4 linked regions of the Homo sapiens genome follow. The protein of the gene in region 3 purifies or fractionates together with the protein of the main gene of each other region. This does not show direct contact. Each region holds a gene or a part of one and is shown on either strand. Other genes may lie near its edges.

Evidence for each region. The genes of interacting proteins can lie anywhere in the genome.
Region 1: the proteins of TRHDE (region 3) and LEMD3 purify together in Homo sapiens (affinity purification with mass spectrometry; 2 studies listed by BioGRID and IntAct, with this or other methods). This does not show direct contact.
Region 2: the proteins of TRHDE (region 3) and MAN1A2 purify together in Homo sapiens (affinity purification with mass spectrometry; 2 studies listed by BioGRID and IntAct, with this or other methods). This does not show direct contact.
Region 4: the proteins of TRHDE (region 3) and TSPAN3 purify together in Homo sapiens (affinity purification with mass spectrometry; 2 studies listed by BioGRID and IntAct, with this or other methods). This does not show direct contact.

Annotation. Positions count from the first base shown.
Region 1 is NC_000012.12:65,242,583-65,245,718, reverse strand, and holds part of LEMD3 (inner nuclear membrane protein Man1), read right to left. Parts: intron 2,332-3,136; coding exon 2,250-2,331; intron 51-2,249; coding exon 1-50.
Region 2 is NC_000001.11:117,370,449-117,373,948, forward strand, and holds part of MAN1A2 (mannosyl-oligosaccharide 1,2-alpha-mannosidase IB), read left to right. Parts: intron 1-3,500. UniProt on the Homo sapiens protein: Involved in the maturation of Asn-linked oligosaccharides. Progressively trim alpha-1,2-linked mannose residues from Man(9)GlcNAc(2) to produce Man(5)GlcNAc(2).
Region 3 is NC_000012.12:72,270,965-72,275,169, forward strand, and holds the start of TRHDE (thyrotropin-releasing hormone-degrading ectoenzyme), read left to right. Parts: upstream 1-1,405; 5' UTR 1,406-1,679; coding exon 1,680-2,593; intron 2,594-4,205. UniProt on the Homo sapiens protein: Specific inactivation of TRH after its release.
Region 4 is NC_000015.10:77,047,110-77,050,609, forward strand, and holds part of TSPAN3 (tetraspanin-3), read right to left. Parts: intron 1-3,500. UniProt on the Homo sapiens protein: Regulates the proliferation and migration of oligodendrocytes, a process essential for normal myelination and repair.

The DNA of each region.
Region 1 (3,136 bases), 7.0 Mb from region 3:
TTTCTAAAATTGCTTCTTGAATTGCCAAATGCCACTGATCCCCTATTTCCCTAAAAGTTAATGAAAACAAAAATCAACAACCATATTCCTACTCGGTAAAAATTCTTCACTGTCTCTTACAACATATATATATTACTAGAATTGGTATAGTTTTAAAACCACATACGATTTTAATTGGTATTAAGTAAATGCTTGTTGACTAACAGGAGGTAGATTTAAAAATTACAATTCAGAAGTCTCAGCCCTCCTCCCACTTTCCAGTAAAAGAGTGCAGAGCGCTGGCCAGGCGCGGTGGCTCATGCCTGTAATCCCAGCACTTTGAGAGGCCGAGGCAGGCGGATCATGAGGTCAGGAGATCGAGACCATCCTGACTAACACGGTGAAACCCCGTCTCTACTAAAAATACAAAAAAAAAAAAAAATTAGCCAGGCGTGGTGGCAGGTGTCTGTAGTCCCAGCTACTCGGGAGGCTGAGGCAGGAGAATGGCGTGAACCTGGGAGGCAGAGCTTGCAGTGAGCCGAGATCACGCCACTGCACTCAACCCTGGGCAACAGAGTGAGACTCCGTCTCAAAAAAAAAAAAAAAAGAGTGCAGAGAGCTGAGGCAATGAAAGACTAGCCCACCGCTGCAGAATAAATGGATTGGGTCATTCCTATGTTTAAAAATCCTGTGTACTTACAGTAATTTCTGTTTTCTTTCTATTGTTAATAAGTACTTTAAATGAGTTGTGAACTTATTAAAGTTGTAAAAGTTAAATGTTAGTTATTTGAGACAGGGTCTCGCTTTGTCACCCAGGCTGGAGTGCAGTGGCGTGATCTCGGCTCACTGCAATATGTGCCTCCCAGGCTCAAACCATTCTCCCACCTCAGCCTCCCAGATAGCTGGGACTACAGGCACACACCACCAATTCTGGCTAATTTCTTTTGTATTTTTTGTAGAGACGGGGTTTTGCCACATTGCCCAGGCTGGTCTCGAACTCCTGAGTTCAAGTGATCCACCCACCTCGGCTTCCCAAAGCACTGGGATTATAGGTGTGAGCCACTGTGCCCAGCCGAATGTTATTTTCTTTAATTGTAATGATAGGTTCAAATTCCTAAAGAAAATTCTTAGTAAATACTACATTTGAGCTTCTCTTTTCCAAAATAATTGATACAGGACTAACATTTTGTACAGTCACCTTACTATAATGACAGTTTTAAGGTGTTTCTGCTGTAGTAAGGGACATTTGTCTTGCTTGTGAGACAAAGATGGCAGGAGAGAGAGGAAAGTGACTTCACTTCAAATCACAAATTTTCATCTTAGGTAATAAAATAGTGGACTTGCCAATTCCTAAGGCATGAGGTAAGATTCCCAACAGAGGTATCATCACACTACTAATTGTTTCTATCTCTGCAAAATAGAGGCGGTGTTTGTCTCTGTGTGTGTGGGGGGGGTGTGTGTGTGTGTGTGTGCGCGTGCCCACGTGCAAACACGTGTGCATACTGCTTCCTCACATTTCCAATTTTGCTGTCACTTATTTGGAATTTCATCAATGAGTGATTAGATGAGACTTTGGGGGTATTGTATACATATTGTAATTGCCACTGTTGGGACTTTTAAAACAAACAGAATTTGATCTGTACTATCACTGGATAGATAAGCAGTGCCCTCAGGAAGCTAATTCTAAGAACTATTACAGCTTATATATGAAATACTGTGAATTCTAAGGCAGTCACTTTTGACTGTGCTATTCTCTGGAAGCATATGTTGTTGGAATTATAAAGTCTGAAAAGTTCTTCAAATATTATATTGACAAGTGGAGACAGGACTTTGTAGAGAAGCAGGTATATACATCTTTGTAGGAAACTTTTTACAATTTGAGATTTGAAATTTGTAAGCAGCAGTGATTGTATCTATATTTTCTACTGAGGCAAAAATATTGACAGTCATGTATAATGACTTACACATTTAATAAAGGGTACTCTTTGTCATTGTGAGTCATTAATTTGCCTCAAGCATTTATCTATCTGCTATGACGATTCATAAGGAATACAAAGATTTATAAAAGTTTTACAAATCTTTATACATTAGTGTCCTTTGGCCAAATCTTTGCTTGGAATTTAATGAAAGAGAAAAACATAACATTTCTGTGGTAGAGATTCAGAAGAAAAACATTTTCAATTACAGACACACCATTATAAGAATATCATGCATTTTCCAGCCAAATATTCAGAATAAGAGTTACATGTACCCCTGATCATAATACTTACATAACGGGATCAAACATATTCCGAATCTTTAGACACGGTGTCAAACTATTTGGTGGTGAATTTCTTCTATCTAAATGAAATGCTACAAAAAACAAGTTAGTTTTACTATTTGACATTGTTCTAGTTTGTTGAAAGGTATTCAATCATTCAGTTCATTCAAAAAATATTCACTGCATGCTTTTACTAGGAGCCAGACCCCTGGTTAGATGTTAAGGTGAGTAAGACAGTCATTGCTATCAAAGAGTTTACAGTTTAATGGGAGAGACAGATGATAAAGAGTGTCATGTAAGAAAGTACAACTGTGATTAAGTCCTTAAAAAAAAAAGTACAAAAAGCTTTTTAAAAGTAACTTAACCTCATATGAGAAAATAAAACTTCCCTGAAAAAGTGAAATTTATGTGGGAACTGAAGAATAAAAATTAGCAGGGTGAAGAGAGGTGTGTAAAGGAAGATTTCAAGCAGAGGTGATTGCTTGTACACAGCTCCTGGGGCACGAAGGAGCAAATGTGGCTGGAGTAGAAAGAATAGAGATAAACCTACAGAAGATGTCAGATTATTTAAGATGATGTAGGCTACAAAAAAGTATTTGGGCATTATGGTAAGAGTAATAGCCACTCAACTGTTTTAAGGAGTAGAATAGGATGAGATCTGTCTTTTAAAACTACATATTTTAAAAATACATTGTTATGTGGAGACTCAGGTAAAAGCAGAAGTGAATGCAAGATGACCAGTTAGAAGGTTATTATTATATTATAGTTGTCTAAGAAGGAGAGGATAATGATGTGGGTAAGACAGGCCAACAGTGCAAGTGACAAGCGGATAGAATCAGGACATATTATGGAGTAGATATGACATGACCTGTTGAAAGGTTGGACAAAGAGGGATAA
Region 2 (3,500 bases), on a different chromosome or scaffold from region 3:
TTATATCAGTTGACATTTGCTTTAGCGTATTATTTGCTGTTGTTTACTATATCAGAAAAGAGTCTGTAGTAATAAACTTTCTTTTACTTTGAGCAAGGAAATACTTTTTAAATTAAGTGTATGTTTAAAATGTGGAAACAGAAAACATCAAATGTATAAACATTAACTTATTTAAAAATAATTCAGAAAAATAGCACTTTTACAGTTGGTACTAAGATCATATGTATTTTGGGTATGGGTCAGAACTTACCTAATTTAGAAGAAACAAATTGACAGTTTATCTTCATTTAGTGTGTGTGTGTGTGTGTGTGTGTGTGTGTAAGGGTACAGGATAGAGGGCTGAGGAATGTTACTTTAACTAATAAGTAATGGAAAATAAGTCATGGTCACCATTTCTTATTTGCAGTACTTAAGAGATACTTGTTTAGTTAGTATTTCTTTATTAATAGATTAGTATAATAATTTGGTGTTTAAGTTCTGGAGTCAGACTGTATAGATTCATACCCTAGCTTGCCACTGATTAGATTTATGATACTGAGAAATTTTAAAACTCTATATTGTTTCCTTTGTATCACAGTGGCATGTATCTACTTTACAGATTGTTTTATTGAAAGAGATAGTACATGCAAAGCACTCAACATAGTTCCTGGCATTTAGTAAATGATCAATAAATGTTAACTATTATTATCATCAGTGATTATAATTGTAATGGAATATTTTTATTCGGAATCTACTTTCCTTTAAATACTGTATATTTTCTGAAAAGTAGGGTACAGTTTGATTAATATTTAGAAGTATACTAGGATCTTATTGTCTAAAGGAACATTTTATAACCAAACTGGTTGGCAACAAATGTATGCCTACTGTGGCAGGCCCCGCTTTCATGAAACTTTCAATCTAGGGAGAGATGATGGGCATTAAATAAATAATTTTGTTTTTGAGGTGTGATGAATGTTACGAAGTTGTACTCAGTGCTTTCAGAGCAAGGAATGTGTGACCTAGTCTATAGAGTTGGGGGTGGAGGGGCAGTGGGAATAAGGAAGACTTCATTGAGAAAGTGTGCCTCAGAAACGTAGAATGAGTAGGAGATTGCTTAATGAAGTGGAATTGGAGGTTGAGGGGAGGTTGAGGGTCAAAGCAGAAGACACAACATGTGTGAGAGCCCTAAGGAAAAAAAGCTTGGCATCACTAAGAATCTGAGAAATGTTAAGTATGGCTGTTGCAGAGGGTGTGGGTCTGGGTGATGAGACTAGATGAGAGGTCAGGTTTGGCCTGCTTACAAGTTTTTTGGCCTCCTTATTGTTGTTACAAAAGTTTGAATTAGTTGTCAGCATTCACAGATCAGGAGATTTCATGTTAAAGTCTGGATTTCTGATCTTTCTTGAAAAATTAGAGGTTATGGCAACATCCAGTGTATTTTCAGATGGTAATATTCAAGCCACAACCCAGTAGCAGCTGCTCCCTTGGGAGGGGGACGGGGGCGGGCATGTGCCACTCAGAGTGCGAAATAAGTAAATACAAATCAATCAATATTTAACCTGGTTGTTGTTGAGTTTGCAAATTCTAGTCAGGATTCTAGAGAGTTTGTAGTTAAATATTTTGGTTTTTATCATAAATACTAAGAGAAGTTATTGAAGGATTGTAATAAAAGCAAGGGAATGACATGATCATTTTAAATTAAAAAAATTAAATAATCACTTTGGTTGCAATGATTACTTACTGGATGGTAAGAAGCAGGAGGATAACAAGTTAAGAGGGGCTGGGTCACAGAGGATATATTGGCTTAGATCGCAGTGGTGATAGTGGAGAATGAGATAAATTAGTGGAGAAAAGTGGTTGAGTCAAGAGGTGTTAAACTATTAAGTTTCACAGAAAATGGTGGTTGGTTAAATATGGGGCCAAAATAGAAAGAAAAGTGAGTCCAAGATAATGTCTAGGTTTCTGGGTGACATGGCCATGGATTAGTAAGAAATACATACTATATTTAATTAATGCCCTAATTTATAGATAATAGTGGTATTACATGAATTTAGTATATTTTCATGAGGAAACCAATATGTTCCCTTCTATTAAGTAGTTCATAAATAATCCAGAATTTTCAAACACTGTAGATACACTTTATAGATGATAAGGATATATCAAATGTGTAGTTTGGTGTTGATTATGGTTATTTATAGTATCTATGATTTTGCAGTACCCAAAACCAGAAGTTGTTATAATATACATGTTGTTATACGCTAATATACATAAAGTAATATACGTAAGTATACTTTGTGTACATAATAGATCTCAATAATTAAAAACTTTTTTTTTTAAAACTGACATTTGTTTTATATAATGGCATTTATAGATGGGCTTTGTGAGTTAAAAAAAAAAAAACCCAGCTTATGAGCTGTTTATCTGAATAGCTAATAAGTTTCACCCTCCAGTCAGAACTTTGTTAGTCTGAATTGAATACTTGAGGGTCAGGTATATGTTTACCTTTGATACTTTCCTCAAAGGCATTGGAGTTATAAATAAGGCTGCATCTTAGTTCTACTAACTAGCTGTGTGGCATTGTGCTAGACGTAATCACTCAAACCTGTGCGCTGTCCAGTACCATAGCCACTAGTTATATATGACTATTGCACTTAAAATGTGGCTAGTCCAGGCTGCAGTGTGCTTTAGTGAGTTTCTCAAGTTCTTCATGTTATGATTCGTGTTTTTTTTTTGCTTGATTCAGTTTTGTTACAAGAGTAGAGATTTCAAATCTCACTATTGCAATTTTAATTTTCTTGTCATCTTTCTTTGTCTCATCCCTCTTCTGGACCTTTTTTTTCTATCCTGTTTTTTATTTGGGGCTTTCTGCTCCTGTTTGGGCGACGTCACATTGTTTTATGCACTAATATTAAAGTCTGCTGGATGTTCCATTTCCCTTATAAATTGCTCATGGTTATTTTTCCCACTTCCCTTTACTCAGACATGAATTATTGTGAGGTTTGTTTGTATTTGACGTTTGTCAACAACAGACTGGTGTAGATGCCTTTGCTGCATTTGTTTTTTTTTTTTTTTTTTGGGTACATTCTGTGGTCCAGGCTGGAGTGCAGTGGCACAATTACAGTTCACTATAGTCTCAAACTCCTATGCTGAAGTGATCCTCCTGTCTTAGCCTTCTGAGTAGCTGAAACTATGGGCATGAGTTGGGACTACAGGTGTGAACAACCATGCTAGGTTAAGTTTTAATTTTTGTAGAGATAGGGTCTTACTTGTTGCCCAGGCTGGTCTCAAACTCCTGTGTTCAAGTAATCCTTTTACCTTGGCCTCCCAAAGTGTTCGGATTACAGGTGTTAGCCACTGCACCCAACCGAATCTTATTTTTATCGATATGGATACTTTCAAATTGGAGCTCATGCCTAAGATTGGAAAGTTGGTAATGCAGAAGCTAAGTATCTTCTAGAAATCAGTAGTACATGGTAAACATTAATTGATTTTTTTTTTTAAGTGAAAGCAAGTTTATTAGA
Region 3 (4,205 bases):
CACTGGAAAGCTGCAAGAAAGTAATTATGGCTAGGTGAAATGAAAAACTGACCAATCATGGAATGTATTCGTTCACCGTTCTAATAAGCCCAGCTTTTCTCAGTCTCAGGGTTTTGGTCCTGAATGTTACACTGTAGACATTGTGTGTTAATCGTTTCTCCAATCTAAAGATGGGAATTATCCTATGGGGAAAACATCACCTTGCTTTGGCCTTTACTTCCGGAGGATTTTAATGCTTCATTGCTAACATTATTTTAGTACTGCACACCTGGACACATCGCACAGTATAATGTAATATATGTAGTCAGGTTTTGGAGAATTTATTTCAATTTACATACAATCCTCCAAATCCTCTGGCGAGCTTGATGTGAAATCTGACACAGCCACATCTCCCTAGCAGGATCTTCTTTTGCTCTCTATGTTAATAGCCAAAGGCTCCAAGGATCTCTCCCTGGAGCGCGGTGGGGCTAAGGAGTCAGGAAGAGGGGTGACTGCGGGGCTTGTTGCGCTGAAGATTTACAATGTACTTCTTGCAGGCGGCTCAGCAACCCCCTCTGTGGCTGTGGGTGTCTGGTGTGACAGAGCGGAGAAAAGCTCTCTAATCTCCCAGTGCCTGCCTCTGCCGCTCAGTCGCTCCCCTCCCTCCCGCCTTTCCTGCCTCCTCGCGCGCTCCCTCTCCTTTGCCTTTCTCTGGGAGTTTCAGTCCCTCAATGCAGCTGGAGTAGCCCTGGCAATCTAAACCCGAAGCCTGTGTATATACACACACGCACACACGCGCACACACATGCACACGCGCTCGGACATACGCACTTCGGCTCTCCCCCTTGGGATATGGAGCAAACCCAGAGCTTCATCTACCTGAAGGGGATGGCCCGGCCGGACACTTCTTTCTCACTTGTCATCTCCGGAGGGCAGAGCAAGACTGGAATGAGGGAGTCTCGCTGTCGGGTCTGCAACCTCCTGCCGTTTGCCGCCACCGCCGCTTAAAGTGCCCAGGGTGGAGAAGGCTTTTCCAGGACGGATCTCCGTCGTAGCTTCGCGGCCCTGGGACTTCCTCCTGCTGGTTCACTCTAGTCTCTCCCACCTCGGCCATCCTTTTCTCTCCAGCTGCAGGGTGTATGGCTCGGGTGCCTCCCGTGCTGTGGCCGCCGTCACTGCTGCTGCGAGCACATTCCACCCAGAGGACCGAACGCCGCCGCTGGAGTGGGGGGAGAAAGCGAAAGCCCTAACTTCCCTCTCTACACCCTCGCTCTTCCCACCGCTCCCGTCCTTCTCCCTAGCCGAGAACCGGTTGGAAGGCTCCCGCGGAAAGCGAGGCGAGAGCGCGGCGCAGGGGAGGGAGAGCCGGGAGCCGCAGGCGCGCAGGGGCGGGGGCAGCATGTGCCCCGCCGCCGGGTGCTCGTCCGAGAAGTAGCGCGCGCTGGGCAAGCAAGACGCTTTCCAAGTTGGGCGCGTCCCAGAGCTCACAGCCCGGTGTCCAGAGTGAGGCGGGGCTGATGGGGGTCGCGGAAGCTGCCGTCGCTTGTGTCCAGAACCCGTCTTAAAAGAACCCGGGCCAGCATCCCCAGTCGCGCGCCCTCGGCCCGCGTGAGCTCTCCGATGCCTGCTCTGGCTGTGGCCCGGGTGGCCCGCCCGCGGGGGGTGCCAGAGGGGGCGGGGGAGGAGGAGGAGGCGGTGTGATGGCCCTGGACGGCGAGCTGGGGGAGCAAGAGGAGGAGAAGAAAAAGAAGAAGAAAAAGAAGAGGAAGAAGAAGAAGGAGGAGGAGGAGGAGGAGGAGGGGGCCGAGAAGAGCAGCTCACCCTTCGCAGCCGCGATGGGGGAAGACGACGCCGCGCTTCGGGCTGGCAGCAGGGGGCTCTCCGACCCGTGGGCAGACTCAGTGGGAGTGCGACCCCGCACCACGGAGCGCCACATCGCCGTACACAAGCGGCTTGTGCTGGCCTTCGCTGTGTCCCTCGTGGCATTGCTCGCGGTCACAATGCTCGCTGTGCTGCTCAGCCTGCGCTTCGACGAGTGCGGGGCGAGTGCCACGCCAGGCGCCGACGGTGGCCCCTCAGGCTTTCCGGAGCGCGGCGGCAACGGGAGCCTCCCTGGATCGGCCCGGCGCAACCACCACGCAGGCGGGGACTCCTGGCAGCCCGAGGCGGGTGGGGTGGCCAGTCCGGGGACCACGTCGGCCCAGCCGCCGTCGGAGGAGGAGCGGGAGCCGTGGGAGCCGTGGACGCAGCTGCGCCTGTCGGGCCACCTGAAGCCGCTGCACTACAATCTGATGCTCACCGCCTTCATGGAGAACTTCACCTTCTCCGGGGAGGTCAACGTGGAGATCGCGTGCCGGAACGCCACCCGCTACGTAGTGCTGCACGCTTCCCGAGTGGCGGTGGAGAAAGTGCAGCTGGCCGAGGACCGGGCGTTCGGGGCTGTCCCTGTAGCCGGTTTTTTCCTCTACCCGCAAACCCAGGTCTTAGTGGTGGTGCTGAATAGGACACTGGACGCGCAGAGGAATTACAATCTGAAGATTATCTACAACGCGCTCATCGAGAATGAGCTCCTGGGCTTCTTCCGCAGCTCCTATGTGCTCCACGGGGAGAGAAGGTATGGAGGGAGGCGGTGCCCCGCGCTGCCCCACCCCGGCGCGCGGCTCGAACCTCTGGGCGGCCTGCGACCCCGGGGACCCAGCTGGCTTCCAATACCCGGGAAGCCAGGGGTGGGGGGAAGGAAACGAAAGCGGAGTAGGGCAGTCAGAACTCCGGGGTCTCCCAGATGCCTCGGGGTCTCGCTGCCGCCAACTTCGCAAACTGACTCACCGGTGCCAAAAGATGAATGCTGCCCCCTCCTCTAGTCGGGACCTCTCCTCTTCCTGTCAGAGTTCCTTAGCCATCGAAACGCAGGGCTCTTTTTCTGAAGGGTAGCTGATAATCTGAGCGATGCCAGAGTGACATGAAAAGCTTGCCAAGTTACTGTCGAGGGAAAATACGTGGCGCTGAAGGCCAAGACAACAGCGCATCCAGGTTAGCATGTCAGGGCAGGTCAGGGACACACCGTTCTCCACCCCCACCCACAACATGCCCATCTTCCCTGACTATTAGTCTCCTGCCAGGTGCAGAGCAGAGGATGGGCTTTGGCTGCGTCAAGTTTCCCCAAACTTCAAGTTGAGATTCGGAGTGAAAAGAGTGGTTTCCAGAGATAGGCTGAGAGGACCGGGACGGGGGTGGAGGTTGCCAAGGCCAGAGCCAGCGATAAGTGGCCTCGCGGGCGCTGCCAGCTCTGTGCTAAGGCAGGGCGACTCCGGTTGTTTGTTTATGAGTTGCTGCCTCTGGAGATGATTCCAGTGGCCAAGCGGTGGGAAAGCTAGTTGTCAGTCTCAAATGCCTTGTTAGTGTCTTTGCCGCGTTTTACATTTGTGTAGTTTTGTATTTTTATAAAAAATTTCCGAGAGGCCGTGGAGCTTTTCACCACTTGTTTAGAGCTCAGACCTCATAATCCAATAGAACTGAGTTCGAATCTCTGCTGTTCATCTAACTCTGGTGGAGGTTTGAGGAAGGTAATTAACCTTTTCCTGACATGACTACTTCTAGTGCTTATTGCACGCCCATGTACTCAATCCGACAAGAACCCTATGAGGTAGACGCTATTATCAGCATTCCCTATTTTACAGGTGGGGAAATGGAGGCACAGGTGTGTCACATAGCTTGATCAAGATCACCAAGAGTGAGCAGACAAAGCACGGATTTAGACCCAGGGAGTCTGGCTCTTGAGCCTAGACTTTTAATTCTAACTTGGGGATACCAATAATAATATTCTACTTGTAGGATTGGTGTAGACGTCTATGAGTGAATGCATTACAAAGTACTTACCCCTGTGCCTGGCATATAGAGTATCCACCATAAATGCTAGCTCTCATGAGTGTCTTGTGGCAGTAAGCTCTCAGGTATATTGTTGAATGAATAAGTGATTCTTGTTCTTTGCTCTAATTCCCACATTGCTAAGATAACTTAGATTAATTAAATGACTGAGGGCAGATGAACAACCAAAGTGAGCTTAAAAATTAAACCAACAACTTTAGAAGAGGAGGCAGGTTACAGATCAGTAATGAGGCAGAGCCTCTCCTTTTCTCAGGTGATTCTCACAACAGCAGAAAATGGGCTCGGAGAAGCCCAGGGCCCTGGAGGTGAGCAGGCTTGTCAGTGGAGAGTTAGGACTTGAA
Region 4 (3,500 bases), on a different chromosome or scaffold from region 3:
AAGCTTCAGCTTCCCTCCCAGGAACTCTTCGTAAAGCCAGCAGGGAATCAAGTCTCTCTTATTTGGCATCCCCACTACTAGTCTAGCGAGTGCTGTCCGAAAGAACTTTCTGCAGCGATGGAGACATACCACATATGCACTGTCATGTGGCCTCATGTGACTACTGAGCACCTGAAATATAGTTACTGCAACTGAGTTGCACTTTTAATTTTATTTAAATTAATTTAAATGTAGACACATGTGGCTAGTGGCTACCATTCTGGACAGCAAAGGCCTGGGGAGTAGAATGAGCAAGAATGTGTGTGTTTAATAGTGGTCTTTTCAGGTCTTTTGGTTTTTGGAAAACGAAATTCAGTATGTGAATAGCCCTATGGTAGAAAACAAATTCTGATGCCAAAAAAAATGTAGTTGGAAGGTTTTTTGTTTCCTTCACATTCACTATTTTTGAAATCCACGGTTCTGTGGTATTACATACATATTACTTTTGAAAGGTCACTCTTCCGTCATCATTTTATTTCAATAAGTCCTAAACCTTCTGTGGTAGCATATTGGAATAGTAATAAAGTCATGCCATGTTATTTTGGATAAGCAAAAGGATTAAGCTGGATTAAAGAGAAAATGATTCTAGAATTTTTGACCTACCTTCTCCCAAAATATAATTTTTTTGTGAGATAATTTGCTGTTCTAACTTCTCATTGATGAGGAAAAGCCTCAGTTATTTGATTTTAAAAGACAGGGTCCTCTGTACATTTGGGGGTCAATCTAATTTCCGCAAAATGTACCCAATCCATAAACAGACTCTCAAAGTTTGAAGTGGAAGATTAACCACTACTAAGACACACATACACATAAGGATGTCCTCAATCTGAATTCTCCATGGTATAAAGTCACCCACTCCAATTTCTACCCTCACATTAACCTATATTCTGCCCATTCGGGATATATATTTCCTGCTCAAATCCATCAGTTTCACTATTTCACCACTTGCACCATTTGCACCATTTCACCATTTGCAAAGCACCTTAAACACACTTAAGAGGTGAATATTATTTAAAGTTTACTAAACAATTTAAGTCAATTCTAGACCGATGAAGTACCTAATTCCTAGAGAAATACATTTCTGTTCTCTGTACATCAAAACATTGTTAGAACAGCTATAAACTCAAATGCAATTATGTTCTCAGGCAATGTTAAATTGAGCAATAAAAATGCTAAGCTCAGAAATGACTGGTTTGCTAAGGGAAAAAAAATCTCTCTTCCCACCCCCACCTCCCCACACTCCTTTCAATTGGTTAACTTCTATTAGAGAAGCCAGCATTCTCAAAATGAGGTCTGAAATAAGTATTTCTTTCCCAATTTGTTTATTTCAATGAAATCAACTTGTATTGATTTTAAAACAAATAAACTTGATAAAATTCTACTCATGCTTGGGAATCAGTCTGCTTAAGAATATTAAGCTCTACATAATAATTTCTTATCCTCACCATTAACTATTACAGGCTCATTTCCAAAGGCCTGCTATACTGAAATTCCATTGATTTTTGAAACATTCCAACAACATACTTGGAAACATTACACAAATATTTTATCTCCAACATTATTTCTTGCAATGAAATACTCTCTTGCAATATTCAAGGCATGAGAATTAAACTTCACTTAGCCCAAATATAACACCCAGCAACTGCAAAAATTGAAAAAAATGACTAGTGGTGATTAAAAAAACTGACTGGCAAAGTAAAATGTTCTATGATATACCATGTTGCTGGTGGTATGGGGAAATAGGCATTCTTATACAAAAATAAGAACTTTTGCACATTAGAAACACTCTTTTCTGAGAAAAAATTGGAAATACCTATCAAAATTCATTCATACATTCTGATACTGTAATTTCATAGTTACAAATTTTTGCTATAAACAGCCCATCAATATTGATTAAAGTATGCCTATAAAATGGAATACTATGCAGACATGAAATTAAAAAGGCAGATCTATATCCAAAATACACTAATTTGTTTTTAAGAAGGTACAAAAGGTTGCAAACTATATGAATTCATTTATATAACATTTTGCAATGTTGGCCAGGGTGTGAGGGGAAGGAGGAGGAAGTTTCTCATTTTAACGAATAACTGGTAATTGAGGAGGAGGAGGAAAGAGCAGTCTCCACCGGCTTCACATGCGGCACAGAGACCAGAAAAAAAGCAACATGGCCTTGGGAAACAGTTCTTTATGAAATCTGCTCTTGATCGTTCTATCTTGAGGATATGCCAACTTCATGAGACCCCAAAGTAAAGACTTAGAACATTTTCCCCGTATTGCCTTTGTAGAGAGACAGCCTTACTCACAGCAGATACTCAGGAGCTTGACAAATCAAAATCTAGATTTTTGTCAATTATTATGACCAGATTCTTTAAATATAAAATTCATAATTGATCATGAGTTAAGAGAGTGGCTACTCTCAAAGAAGTGAAATATCCTGCTAATTAATAAGGGGTACATCAAAATTTTTAAAACCTCATTCTTTTATATTCAAAAGTCCTGTTATTATAATTAATTGGTATTTTTCAGGTTTTTCTTTCTTGGTCACTTTGGTCCTACCCAAATCTAGATTATTTAATGGACTAGAGCAAGAGTCACCAAACATTTTCTTAAAGGGCCATATCATAAATATTTTAGGCTTTCCAAACCAAGACAAAAATCAATCAATATTGTAACTACTCAACTCTGCCATCTTACCTCTGTATTTTATCCAGCTAAAGTGTCAATTAACTGTCAGGTTTCCTGACAAAATTTAGGAATTTAATCTTCTGCAAATCTTATACTTGTAATTGGAGGCAGAGTACAAACAAAGGCAGGGGTCTCTAGAGTTGACACTCTGTGTGATGGTCATGCCACACTATCCTTGCTCACCCAAAATTTTGTGGCTAAACAAAGAGGGCCAAGACTGGAGACTCTCCAACCATCCTCTCCAGCTCTAAATGTCTATATTAGGATCAGTGTATAAGCACAAAAGCTCACTGATCTTTCAGTTATTTCTGCCTTTGTTCAGGTTTTCCACACCCAGGGCACCAATCTATCAGATTTTGAATACCAGAAGCTTAGAATGTTTACAGGTACTCTTAAAAACAATTAGGGAAAATTATTAATTCAGATAAATTTTCTCCCCTTAAAACCCAAGTTTTTAAAATTTTCAAAACCACTAGGTTTTGAGTCTGTGAAAGCTCTGAATCCCTAAACTTAAGCAGCCTTGCTGAAGTGAAAAAATCAAGCTTTATCAGCTTTTACTTAAGTCAGGGTGACTTAAGTATAAAACACATATGGCAGTCATATTTAAATTAAGAGACTAGTTAAAATATTTATTAGCCCCTATTGAAAAATATTTAATAAAGAAATGTCTGGCAGGCTAAGCCGCTTAACTAGATGAGGGACATAGCTAAAGTGATTATTTTTATCAGTCTTCTATATACATGTTGCATATTTCATGACCACAAGTACCATACAGT